Homo sapiens: one gene and its partners. The protein of the gene in region 2 purifies or fractionates together with the protein of the main gene of each other region. This does not show direct contact. Each region holds a gene or a part of one and is shown on either strand. Other genes may lie near its edges. The genes, in order: ZNF384, TDG and KDM6B.

Region 1 (3,724 bases), about 97 Mb from region 2:
TACAAAAATTATCCAGATGTGTTGGCAAGCGCCTGTAATCCCAGCTACTTGGGAGGCTGAGGCAGGAGAATTGCTTGAACCCAGGAGGTGGAGGTTGCAGTGAGCTGAGATCACGCCATTACACTTCAGCCTGGGCAACAAAATGAGACTCTGTCTCATAAAAAAAGAATTCAGAAGTCTTGATTCCCAAGGCCATTCTCTAGCTACTGAACTTGATGAGTGTATTTCATGGTTTTCTAAGGGTTGGTTGTGTTAAGGGAATGCTGTTTTCTTGGGGAAAGAAAATCATGCTTTATTTGAAAAAACAACAGTAAAAAAACAATTAGTGGGTTCTGGGAAAGAGATGGTGGTCTTCACCATATCTGCCAAAAACACCTGCTGGAGGCCATGTCATCTTTATCCCTGGATGGTTGGTAGCATTACGGAAGGATGTGGTCAGATAGACAAAGCTCTGGGCCAAGAGTTCAAGTCCTACCGTGTTTCACGACTATTATTAATACTTGATAGTGTCTCTCTTCTTTATCTCCTGAGGGCTTCTGAGATTTGAGATTGGAGAAGGAATATGTAGTTCCTTGTGTCTCTTAAGAGAAAATTACTCTCCAACTTAATTAGAGTAAACCTGCCTTCTTTTTTTTTTTTTTTTTTTTTTTTTGAGACTGAGTCTCGCTCTGTCGCCCAGGCTGGAGTGCAGTGGTCTGATCTCCTTTCACTGCAACCTCCACTCCACCTCCCAGGTTCAGGCAATTCCCTGTCTCAGCCTCCTGAGTAGTTGGGATTACAGGCGCATGCCACCATGCCCAGCTAATTTTTTGTATTTTAGTAGAGATGGGATTTCACCATGTTGCCCAGGCTGGTCTTGAACTCCTAAGCTCAGGCAGTCCACCTGCCTCGGCCTCCCAAAGTGCTAGGATTACAGGTGTGAGCCACCTCGCCCAGCAGTAAACCTCCCTTCCTATTAACAGAACAGTTGAGGCTTGGTGCAATAGTAAAGTTGATATGAGAACCCAGATTTTCAGCCTGCCAGCATTTTTCTTTCCACCAAATTATATCTTTCCTTCTCTTCTGTTTTTTCTTTCCTTTCTATTTCTTTTTCTTTTTTTCTTTTTGAGACAGGGTCTCACTCTTTTGGCCAGACTGGAGTGCAGTGGCGTGATAATGGCTGACTGCAGCCTCGACTTCCTGGGCTCAAGCAATCCTCCTGCCTCAGCCTCCCAAGTAACTGGGACTACAGGTGTGAGCCACCATGCCCGGCTACTTTTTTAATTTTTTGTAGATACAGGGTCTCCCTATTTTGCCCAGACTGTTCTTGAATTCCTGGGCTCAAGTGATTCTCTTACTTTGGCCTCCCAAAGTACTTTCTTTAAATATATAGGCATAATCATTAAAATTGGCACTCTCTGTGTAGACATGAGTTTTCTGTGTAACATCAGTGGGCTTCTTTGGGTGATAAGAATGTTGATATGTGCCTGATTGAATGTTGGGATGATTTGGAGAAATTTCCTCCACGAAAGATAGAGTAAGCGGTAAAACAGACAGTAAGCAGATATTTGAGTGATCTGGCCCCAGAACGCCCTGTTACACAACTCTAGGGGGCGCCATTTACATTGTATTCTAGCAATAGTTTTGATTCTTAGCTCTCCATTGATCTCATTTCAGGAGTACAAAGATGAAGTCAGCCTCATCAGTAGCACAGTGGCATAGCATTTCTCAGGTGTCATTTTGCTGGTAAAGGTTGCTTATAGTTGGATGAGCAGTTCTCTCTGTGGTCTCCCTTTTGGGCTGACCTATTTATCGGAAGCTGGTAACGCATATGTAGTGTCTTGTCCTTGGACCAGACACACCAGTTTATTGGATGCAATAAACTAGGCATCCAAGTAAGTGGAGGGGCTTTTTATTTATTTTCCTTTGTAAAGTCCGGCCTCTTTATTCAGGCTCTGTCATCCTAAAGTAAGTTATCTTGGTAGCTAAGTGAGGTTTCACAGAATAAGGAATATGACCTTGAACTGCATGTCATTTTGCTGTTATCAAAAACTTCAATTTTGAAAACATTTTTTGAGAACTAGCTGGAAAATAGTTCATTCCTGGAAATATTCTAAATTTTATTTCCTGGATCAAGCCATAACATCAGAAAGTGTGTACTACAGTTATATGGTTTTGGTTCCTTGTAGAACCCCTTTCCTTAACTTGCCCTTTGGTGCCTGGATTCACATTCCTGCTTTGCTATTTACTGTTGGACTCTGTGCCTCCAGTTTCCTCATTTCAAATGGGAATTACAGTACCTACCTCATTGTTGCAGGGACTAAATGATGTAGTAGTTGTAAAGTGCTTAGAACACTACCTTGAACACAATAAGTGCTTAATAAGTTTTAATGATAATGATAGTGGTGATATTGTCCACCAGTTTTTTTTTTTGAGACGGATTCTCACTCTGTTGCCCAGGCTCGAGTGCAGTGGTGCGATCTTGGCACACTGCAACCTCCACCTCCCAGGTTCAGGTGATTCTCCTTTCTCAGCCTCCTGAATAGCTGGGACTACAGGCGTGCGCCACCATGCCTGGCTAATATTTGTACTTTCAGTAGAGACAAGGTTTCACCATCTTGGCCAGACTGGTCTTGAACTTCTGACCTTGTGATCCACCTGCCTTGGCCTCCCAAAGTGCTGGGATTGCAGGCATGAGCCACCGTGCTCAGCCTCCTCCTTCCTACGTTTTCACATCCATAGTGCATTTACTTTACTTCCTTGATTCTTTTTTTTTTTTTTTTTTTTTGAGACAGGGTCTTGCTCTGTCACCCAGGCTGGACTGTGGTGGTGCAATCTCGACTTACTGCACTCAGGTGATTCTCCTGCCTCAGCCTCCCAAGTAGCTGGGACTACAGGTGTGTGCCACCACACCTTGCTAATTTTTGTATTTTTATTAGAGATGGGGTTTTGCCGTGTTGGCCAGGGTGATCTTGAACTCCTGAGCTCAAGTGACCCACCTACCTCGCCCTCCCAAAGTGTTAGGATTACAGGCATGAGCCACCACACCCAGCCAACTTCCTTGATTCTTTTGGGAAAATTATACATTGGCCCTTTCTTTCGTTTATTCTCCCTCCTAATTATTATTTTTAATCTTTTTTATTTTATTTTATTTTTTTTTTGAGACAGTCTTGCTCTGTTGCCCAGGCTGCAGTGCAGTGGTTAGATCTCGGCTCGCTGCAACCTCCACCTCCTGGGTTCAAGCAATTCTCCTGCCGCAGCCTCCTGAGTAGCTGGGATTACAGGCGTGTGCCACCATGCCTGGCTAATTTTTGTATTTTTAGTAGAGATGGGGTTTCACCATGTTGACCAGGCTGGTCTCAAAGTCCTGACCTCAAGTGATCCACCTGCCTCAGCCTCCCAAAGTGCAGGAATTACAGGCATGAGCCACCACACCCATTCTCTCCATCTTAATTCTCTACTTAATTCCCACCATTTATCACCACTCTTATCTCTTGTCTGTCATTTCTTTCCACTAGAAGGTTAGACAGGGATTATGCATTGAGACTTGAACCCCTAGCATTGTCTGCAAAATCTATATGTAGGTAGTCTACCGTTGTTCAATTCATTAAATATGTAATTGTGTCTTAGGTGATAAAGTCGTATGTTGGGGATATTTGTAAGATACAGATGTAAAAGATGTGATTGCTCCTTCCCAAAAAGTTTGGCAAGATTGAATTCTCTTAAACTGTGATCTGATTGTATC
Region 2 (3,500 bases):
TGACCAACATGGCAAAACCCCGCCTCTACTAAAAATATAAAAATTAGCCGGGCACAGTGGCATGCACCTGAAGTCCCAGATACTTGGGAGGCTGAGGCAGGAGAACTGTTTGAGCCTGGAAGGTGGAGGTTTAAGTGAGCTGAGATTGTACCACTGCACTCCAGCCTGGGTGACAGAGCAAGATTCTGTCTCAAAAGAAAAAAAAAATGGTGATTAGGTCAAGAGGAGGGCTCTGCCTTCAGGAGTGGGTTAATGCTATTATCACAGGAGAGGGTTCCTGATAACACGATGAGTGGATGAGTTCAACTCCCTTTCCTATCTCTCTGTCACAAGTGCTGCCTCACTGTGTGATTCCTTCTGCCATTTTATGACGCAGCAAGAAGCCCCTCATCAGATGTAGCCCCTCCATCTTGGACTTCCCAGGCTCCAGAAGTAGGAGCCAAAAAAACCTCTACTGTTTATTAATTGCCCAGTCTATGGCATTCTGAAACAGCAACACAAAATAGATTCAGTCACTAAAGAGAAACATGAAATGGATATTTTGTAAACATGTGTTGAATTTATGAAGGAAAAAACCTCTAAACCTCTCTTCTGAACACGATTTAAATTTTGTTCAAAGTATTCTGTTCAAAGGAAACAATGTGGGCTTTCAAAGAAAACAATTAAAAAAAATACTTCTCATGGCCTTAAACCACTATCTCATGGTGTTGCTGTTAGCATAAAACCAGAGAAGTAAACACATATTTGATGAAACTCAAGTTACAGCAAATGCCAAATAATGCCATTAAATAGGCAGGAGAAGAAAAACAGTAGAAAATAAAATGGAAAAGTTTGCTTTACTATTTGGAGAGGAAAGTCATGTTTTCTTTTTCTTTTTCTTTTTTTTTTTTTTTTTTTGAGACGGAGTCTCGCCCTGTCGCCCAGGCTGGAGTGTGGTGGCGCGATCTTGGCTCACTGCAAGCTCCGCCTCCCGGGTTCACGCCATTCTCCTGCCTCAGCCTCCCGAGTAGCTGGGACTACAGGCGCCCCCACCACCACACCCAGCTAATTTTTTTTTATATTTTTAGTAGAGACAGGGTTTCACCGTGTTAGCCAGGATGGTCTCAATCTCCTGACCTCGCGATCCACCCGCCTCAGCCTCCCAAAGTGCTGGGATTATAGGCATGAGCCACCGCGCCCAGCGAAAGTCATGTTTTCTACTGCAAGATACTATACTAATCAGTTTTCATTCTCTATGATATTCATTGAAAGAGAACAGGAAGCTCAGAAAGCAGATTAAAAAGGGAAATGAGGCCAGGCACGGTGGCTTATGTCTGTAATCCTAGTGCTTTGGGAGGGCAAGGCGGGAGGATCACTTGAGGCCAGGAATTCAAGAGTGGCCGGGGCAATATAGCAAGATCGCCACCTCCACAAAAAAATTTTAAAACATTAGCTGGGCATGGTGGTACATGCTGACAGCCCCAGCTGCTCAGGAGGGTGAGGCAGGAGGATTGCCTGAGTCTAGGAGTTCAAGGTTACAGTGAGCGATGATCACACTGCTGCACCCCAGCCTGGGGGACAGAACGAGACTCTGCCTCAATAACAACAACAACAACAACAAAAGAGGGCAAATGAGTACACTTTAAATGGATGAACTATGTAGTATGTAAATCATATCTCAATAAAATGGTTAACAGGAAAAAAAAAAGGCAAACTAAAGCATTTCCTGGATAAGCTTAAATGGCCTGGGGAAACAAAGGATAACAGACCACCCCCAGCGGCTGGGCTAAATGTTGGCAGCTCAAGATAAACAGAAGCCCAATCCCAATGGACAAACCACTGGAGAGGCATTTCCACTTCCAGCTATCTTTAAGGGTAGGTTGGTAAAGCAAAGATTAAGAATGAGTGAGAAAGAGATTAACCTGTATCATAAGAGTTTTATTTCTTTTATTGTTCACAAATTAAATAAAAATAAAGTTATGACTTAGTAAACTACAATACATTAACATGAGAAAATACTATGCAGCTAAAAAATTAAGTTTATTTATCTTATGTAAAAGAACAGGAAAGAGTTTATATATATTTTAAAACAGAAAAGAATACAAAATAGTATAACTAAGGCTACACATAAGGGAAAATATGTAGACAGGGACTAGAAGTTAAGATGTAGAACTATGCTTAGAAGCATACCTGGCACAAAGTAAAATGTCCTTTTTTTCCATAGTTTTATTTAATATTATTAGTAGCTCTATGCAATAAATTGTTAAAATATTGGTTGTTCAACATTCATGATTTAAATATTCTAATGATGAGTTGGATATGGCTAGGTTAGATCTGGAAGTCTTGAGCAGTGGTCCTATGGCAATTCTAACTAAAGAAACTGCAAGTTCTGACTGTGGTCAGCGGCAGCTTCCCGAGATTCTAATAGCACCTTGATTTAGCTTGAATATATAGAAACAAAGGCATATGGTGACAATAAATGAGCGAGCAAAAGAATGCATGAGATGTGGCTGGGTGCAGTGGCTCACGCCTGTAATCTCGGCGCTTTGGGAGGTCAAGGCGGGCGGATCACCTGAGGTCAGGAGTTCAAGACCAGCCCGACCAACATGCAGAAACCCTGTCTCTACTAAAAACACAAAATTAGCTGGGTGTGGTGGCGCATGCCTGTAATCCCAGCTAGTTCAGGATGCTGAGGTAGGAGAATCGCTTGAACCCAGGAGGTGGAGGTTGTGGTGAGCCGAGATGATGCCATTGCACTCCAGCCTGGACAACAAGAGCGAAACTCCGTCTCAAAAAAAAAAAAAAATGTATGAAACGTGTTTTTACTCTGTCACATGGTCAGGAAGGCAATCTACCTACCACTCTCCCATGTTTCTTACTACTACTCTCAGAATTTCACATGTCCCATTTTGAGCACTTCATGAAAATGCAAACTGAAAATACATAAATTAGGGAGACACCGTTCACATTACAACAGGATTCTTTACTTTAAAAAAATTTTTCAAAACTTTTAGTATAGTCGGAGGTCATTAATCATCTTCAGAAATTCTGGGGTTCAGAAGCTGAAAATCAAAATTCTAGAAATCACAGTTGGCTGAATAAAAAGTGAAAAATAAAGAGGAAAAATAATCTGAACTTTTATATTAGGTATATCAAGTTTGAAAGAAACCTAGAAACTTATCTATAATAATGAAATATCCCTTAATCTTTCTAAAAATGGACTGTGGCATTTTACAAAAAGTTAAATTAGAACAGGTAAAGGAAAATAAACCTATGGAAAATCAAATGTGTTAGTTCTGAGGAATACACTATCTTCGAGCATTAAACTTAGTTTGTTTACCTCAACAGCTGCCTAAAAGCCAGAATAAAAGATGGTGGATTACAACATTCTTATTCCTTGGCAGAAGCAAGCATTACATCTACACAAAAATCTTCATAAACTTGAATGCTAGTTAACTAAACAGTTCTGGATAACTGGCCGGAAACAGTGGCTCACGCCTGTAATCCCAGCACTTTGGGAG
Region 3 (3,724 bases), on a different chromosome or scaffold from region 2:
CCTCTACTTCCCCTGGCTTTCTGGGTCTTCAATACCGACCGACCCCCAAAATCAGACCCCTTTTAGTCCCCCAACTTCCGAGAAGTCGCGCACCGCGGTCCCGAGTGGCCCCTCTCTCGTGGCTCGCGTATCCTCTCTGCCCTTCCCCGCCGGGGCCACGCGGTTCCCCACGGCCCACGTGGCCCCCGCCCCCCAAGGGAGGGGGGATTTCGGGGGTTGCCCGTGACGTGGCTACTTGCGCAGCGGAAGCGGTGTGTGTAAATGTACTGCGGGGGGGGGGGTCCTGAGGGAGGGAGGAGGGCGGGGCCCGACAGGCAGTGACATCACCCTTGTCCCACTCTCACCACCCACTCCCTTAAAGAACCCAGAACTCGTTTCACTTCCTCCTTCACGCCCCCCCCACCCTTTCGCTTTGGTGCCGACTGGACCCCCGACTGGCACAGCGCTCCCCTCTCTTGGGCACCTTCCCTTTAGCCCCAGCTCTTCCTTCTCGCCTCTCTGAGCCCAGGAGCTGCGTCCCCGCGCCTCCTCCTTGCCTACCCGGCGTCCCCGCAGGTAGGGAGCCGACTCGGCTCCCGGGATCGGTCCATTGAGAGTCTAGAGTACAAAGAGCAGCGAGAGGCGAGTGTCGAGTACAAAGCCGCGGGGGCGGGGCCAGCGCTCCAGCTGGAGCGAGCGCCGGGCAGGAAGCCGGGGGAGAGTGCGCGACGAGGGGCTGGGGGTGGCTGGAAAGTTCGCGTTCGTTGAGAGAAGTCTGCGCTGTGGGGAAATTTCCACCCAGCCCACAAGGGCAGACGGGTTTCTGGTGAAAAGAGCCTTCCTTCCCGAAGGGGCAAGGTCGTTTGTTTGCATGGAAGCGCTTGGACCCTACAGGTCCCTGCGTGCCACTCTCCGCCAAGCCCTTGTGGTCGCTTGGGCCCCGCGGACCCTCTCCGCGGTTCACGTGGTATTACTGTCAGAACTCTCTCCTCACTAGAGGCAGCATCCTTTCCATCAGTAACCAAGCCAGGTACGGCGCTGAACTGTGGTCAAGTATGGCCCTCCGTGACTGCCCCCACCCGAGTACCGAGGCAGGGGCGGGGAGGAGACCCAAGAACCAGACGTGGAGGGGGAGCCGGGGAACCAGACAACAGAGGGGCAGATGCCTGCTTGGGAAGTGGTCCCGAGAGCGCCGCCAGTTACCAGGAAAGGCAGCTTCCCCTTCGGCGATGATGACACTTCCCCTCTGCCACTTCCCCTTTCCCACGGGGAACTGACTCAGCTTTCCCTAAGTCAGTGAGTGCCGTCCCTCCAGCTCCCTGCTCTTCCACCTTTATCCACAAAGCCCCACGCCAGCACCCAAGAATACAAAGCCCTCACTTGAAGACAAAACTTCCTGTACACTAAACACACACTCATTCTCGCCAGCCACCTCGGATCCTTGTCCGCACCCGGGACCCAGGCGCTGGACTCCTCACTCGCCCCCCCGCCCCCCGTACAAAGCCCTCCCTCGGGGTCTGATTCAGGCTTGGGGTGGGGGAGCGTGAGTCACCCAGAAAACCTTCCCCTCTTCCCACTGACTCAGCCCCCGCCTCCCTGAACACACACAGACACACAGTCAGAGGCAGACACAACTCCTCAGCCCACACACCGGCTCACCACCGGTCCCGCGGAATTTCCCCTCTCGTCTTCCCCCACGATGGCCCCTCCCCGTGCCGGGCAGCCCCGACGCGGCGCTTGCACCTGTTCCCCAGTCGCCGCCAGCTCGCGCTCCACTCTCACCTCCACTCTCGCTCTGGGGCAAGAATAGCCCTCCCTGACTCCCGGTGTCTATACTAACCAAGGGAAGGGAACCACGGACAGGCACAAAGACTGACACCCACAGACTCCTCGAAGACAGGCGAGAGGTAGACGCACGCGGCCAGAGCCAGGCTGGGAGATCGATATACTTCTGAGGCAGACATTCCAGCCTCTCCCGACCCGACCCACAACCTCGGGAGCCAGCGGCTCTGAAAGGGTTAATTCCGCTCCCGCCGAGGCCACACCCTCTCCATCCGGGCACTCCCGGCGAAGCCCAGCTCCGCCCCCTCCATCCGGGCCCTGGACTCGGGACTTTAACCGACCCCCTACCCCCCGCCCCCGCTGGAGCCCCAAGAGAGAACACTCCATCAATCACACCCACTTAACTCTCTCTGGGCTTGAGCCGAGGAGCCCCTCCGCGCAGCGCCGCAGCCGCGCGGGACGCGTGGTAAGAGGCCTGAAGTGCGCACGCAAACTCACGTGACGGCCAGAGACAAGAGCCCGCAGATAGGGTTTTACCTAGCCGGCAATCAGCGGGCATGCTGCGCGCGCGCCGAGGTGGGGCGGTCCAGGACCCTCGTCGCAACCCGCTCCCTGCCCGTCCTCATCACGCCTGGTGGAAGCGAGGGGTTACACGCTCGCTTCTTACCTGGGGGAGGGGGAGGCGGAGGGGAGGGCCGCCGGCTGAGGCTCCGCTGTGACTCAGCCACCCGGGCAGGCCGCCCGCCCGGGATTCCCTTCCCCAGCCTTCCCCCGGCTGCCGGCCCCTCCCCGCCCCCCACCGAGGAGTGACGGTGCCGGCCCCGGCCCGCTATGTGTCACTGCAGGCCTTGTGTCTGCCTCTGACTGGGCGCTGTGTTCACCAGTCTGTCTGACACGGTCGGCTGTGCGTGGGTCCCGGTGTCTGTCTCCGCGTGCACCTGCATATCTGCTCATCTTGTCTCCCTCTGTGCCTGTGTCTGACGCGTTCCTGTCATTATCCCTGTCTACATGACTCCGCGGGGCTGTCTCTGTCTGTGTGTCTGCCTAGCTCCTGTCTCGGTCTTTTGTCTGGGTCTGCCTCTGCATCACTAGCGTGATCACGTGTGTCTCCGCACATGCCCTTCTGTGTTTGCCTTCATGTTACTGAACAGAGTCGGGGCGACACTGGCGCAGGCCCACCCTCCTGACTCCTTGCTACACTCCTCTCGATCCTGACGTCTCGCTGGATCAGTGATCATTCTGTCTGAGTCAAGAATTTGGAGGTCTGTCTGCCTTCAATCAAGTTCTGTCCCATCCCTCGACATCCCTGCTTATCCTCAGAGCTCCCTGTGGCTCCCACTGTGGTGATAACTGCTAGCATTTTGTGAATATTTGTTACATGCCAGGCACTGTATTAAGTATTTTACAAGCATTTCTTTTACTCCTCCCCAAAACCTGACATAGGAGGTACTCTGATTACCCCCATTTTACAGATGAGGAAATTGAGGCCCAGAGAGGCTAGGTGACTTGGCCAAAGTCATTCTGCAAGTGAAGAATGAAAGAGCTAGGCTTCTTTCCAGAGCCACATTCTTACCACTCTTATGTACTGCCTCTGTCCTACTCTCCCTCCCTTGGTTTTATCCTCACAGGCCATCTCCTGGGTCAACCTTCCTTTCAGCTCTACCCATGTTACCATCCCCAATGTCTCACGTCCTCTAGAGGATAAAGTAGGAGGCTGTGCAGCAAATCTCAGAAGTCATAGGTTCTTCATAATGAAGCTCATTCAGTTAACATTATTCAACACAAATCCACCATGCACCCCAATGTGCAAAACATCAAGCAAAATAGTGAGAGACACATAGAAGAAAACAGTCCCACTCGAGAAACCCCATATGTAATGAGGAAGAACAACACAGAGAGAACTTAAGCCCCTGGCTTAGGGATTATCTTCCCTTTTCTCCTACAAAGGAATGGGAAATAAAGC

What was found.
Region 1: the proteins of TDG (region 2) and ZNF384 fractionate together in Homo sapiens (co-fractionation; one large-scale study listed by BioGRID). This does not show direct contact.
Region 3: the proteins of TDG (region 2) and KDM6B purify together in Homo sapiens (affinity purification with western blotting, with the first as the bait; one study listed by BioGRID). This does not show direct contact.

The regions. Positions count from the first base shown.
Region 1 is NC_000012.12:6,682,705-6,686,428, reverse strand, and holds part of ZNF384 (zinc finger protein 384), read left to right. Parts: intron 1-1,113; exon of another isoform or gene 1,114-1,231; intron 1,232-3,724. UniProt on the Homo sapiens protein: Transcription factor that binds the consensus DNA sequence [GC]AAAAA. Seems to bind and regulate the promoters of MMP1, MMP3, MMP7 and COL1A1.
Region 2 is NC_000012.12:103,972,372-103,975,871, reverse strand, and holds part of TDG (G/T mismatch-specific thymine DNA glycosylase), read right to left. Parts: exon of another isoform or gene 2,850-3,500; coding exon of another isoform or gene 2,839-2,849; intron 1-2,838. UniProt on the Homo sapiens protein: DNA glycosylase that plays a key role in active DNA demethylation: specifically recognizes and binds 5-formylcytosine (5fC) and 5-carboxylcytosine (5caC) in the context of CpG sites and mediates their excision through base-excision repair (BER) to install an unmethylated cytosine.
Region 3 is NC_000017.11:7,840,615-7,844,338, reverse strand, and holds part of KDM6B (lysine-specific demethylase 6B), read right to left. Parts: intron 701-3,724; coding exon of another isoform or gene 475-700; intron 1-474. Other genes in the region: translation initiation factor IF-2, read left to right, coding at 475-700. UniProt on the Homo sapiens protein: Histone demethylase that specifically demethylates 'Lys-27' of histone H3, thereby playing a central role in histone code. Demethylates trimethylated and dimethylated H3 'Lys-27'.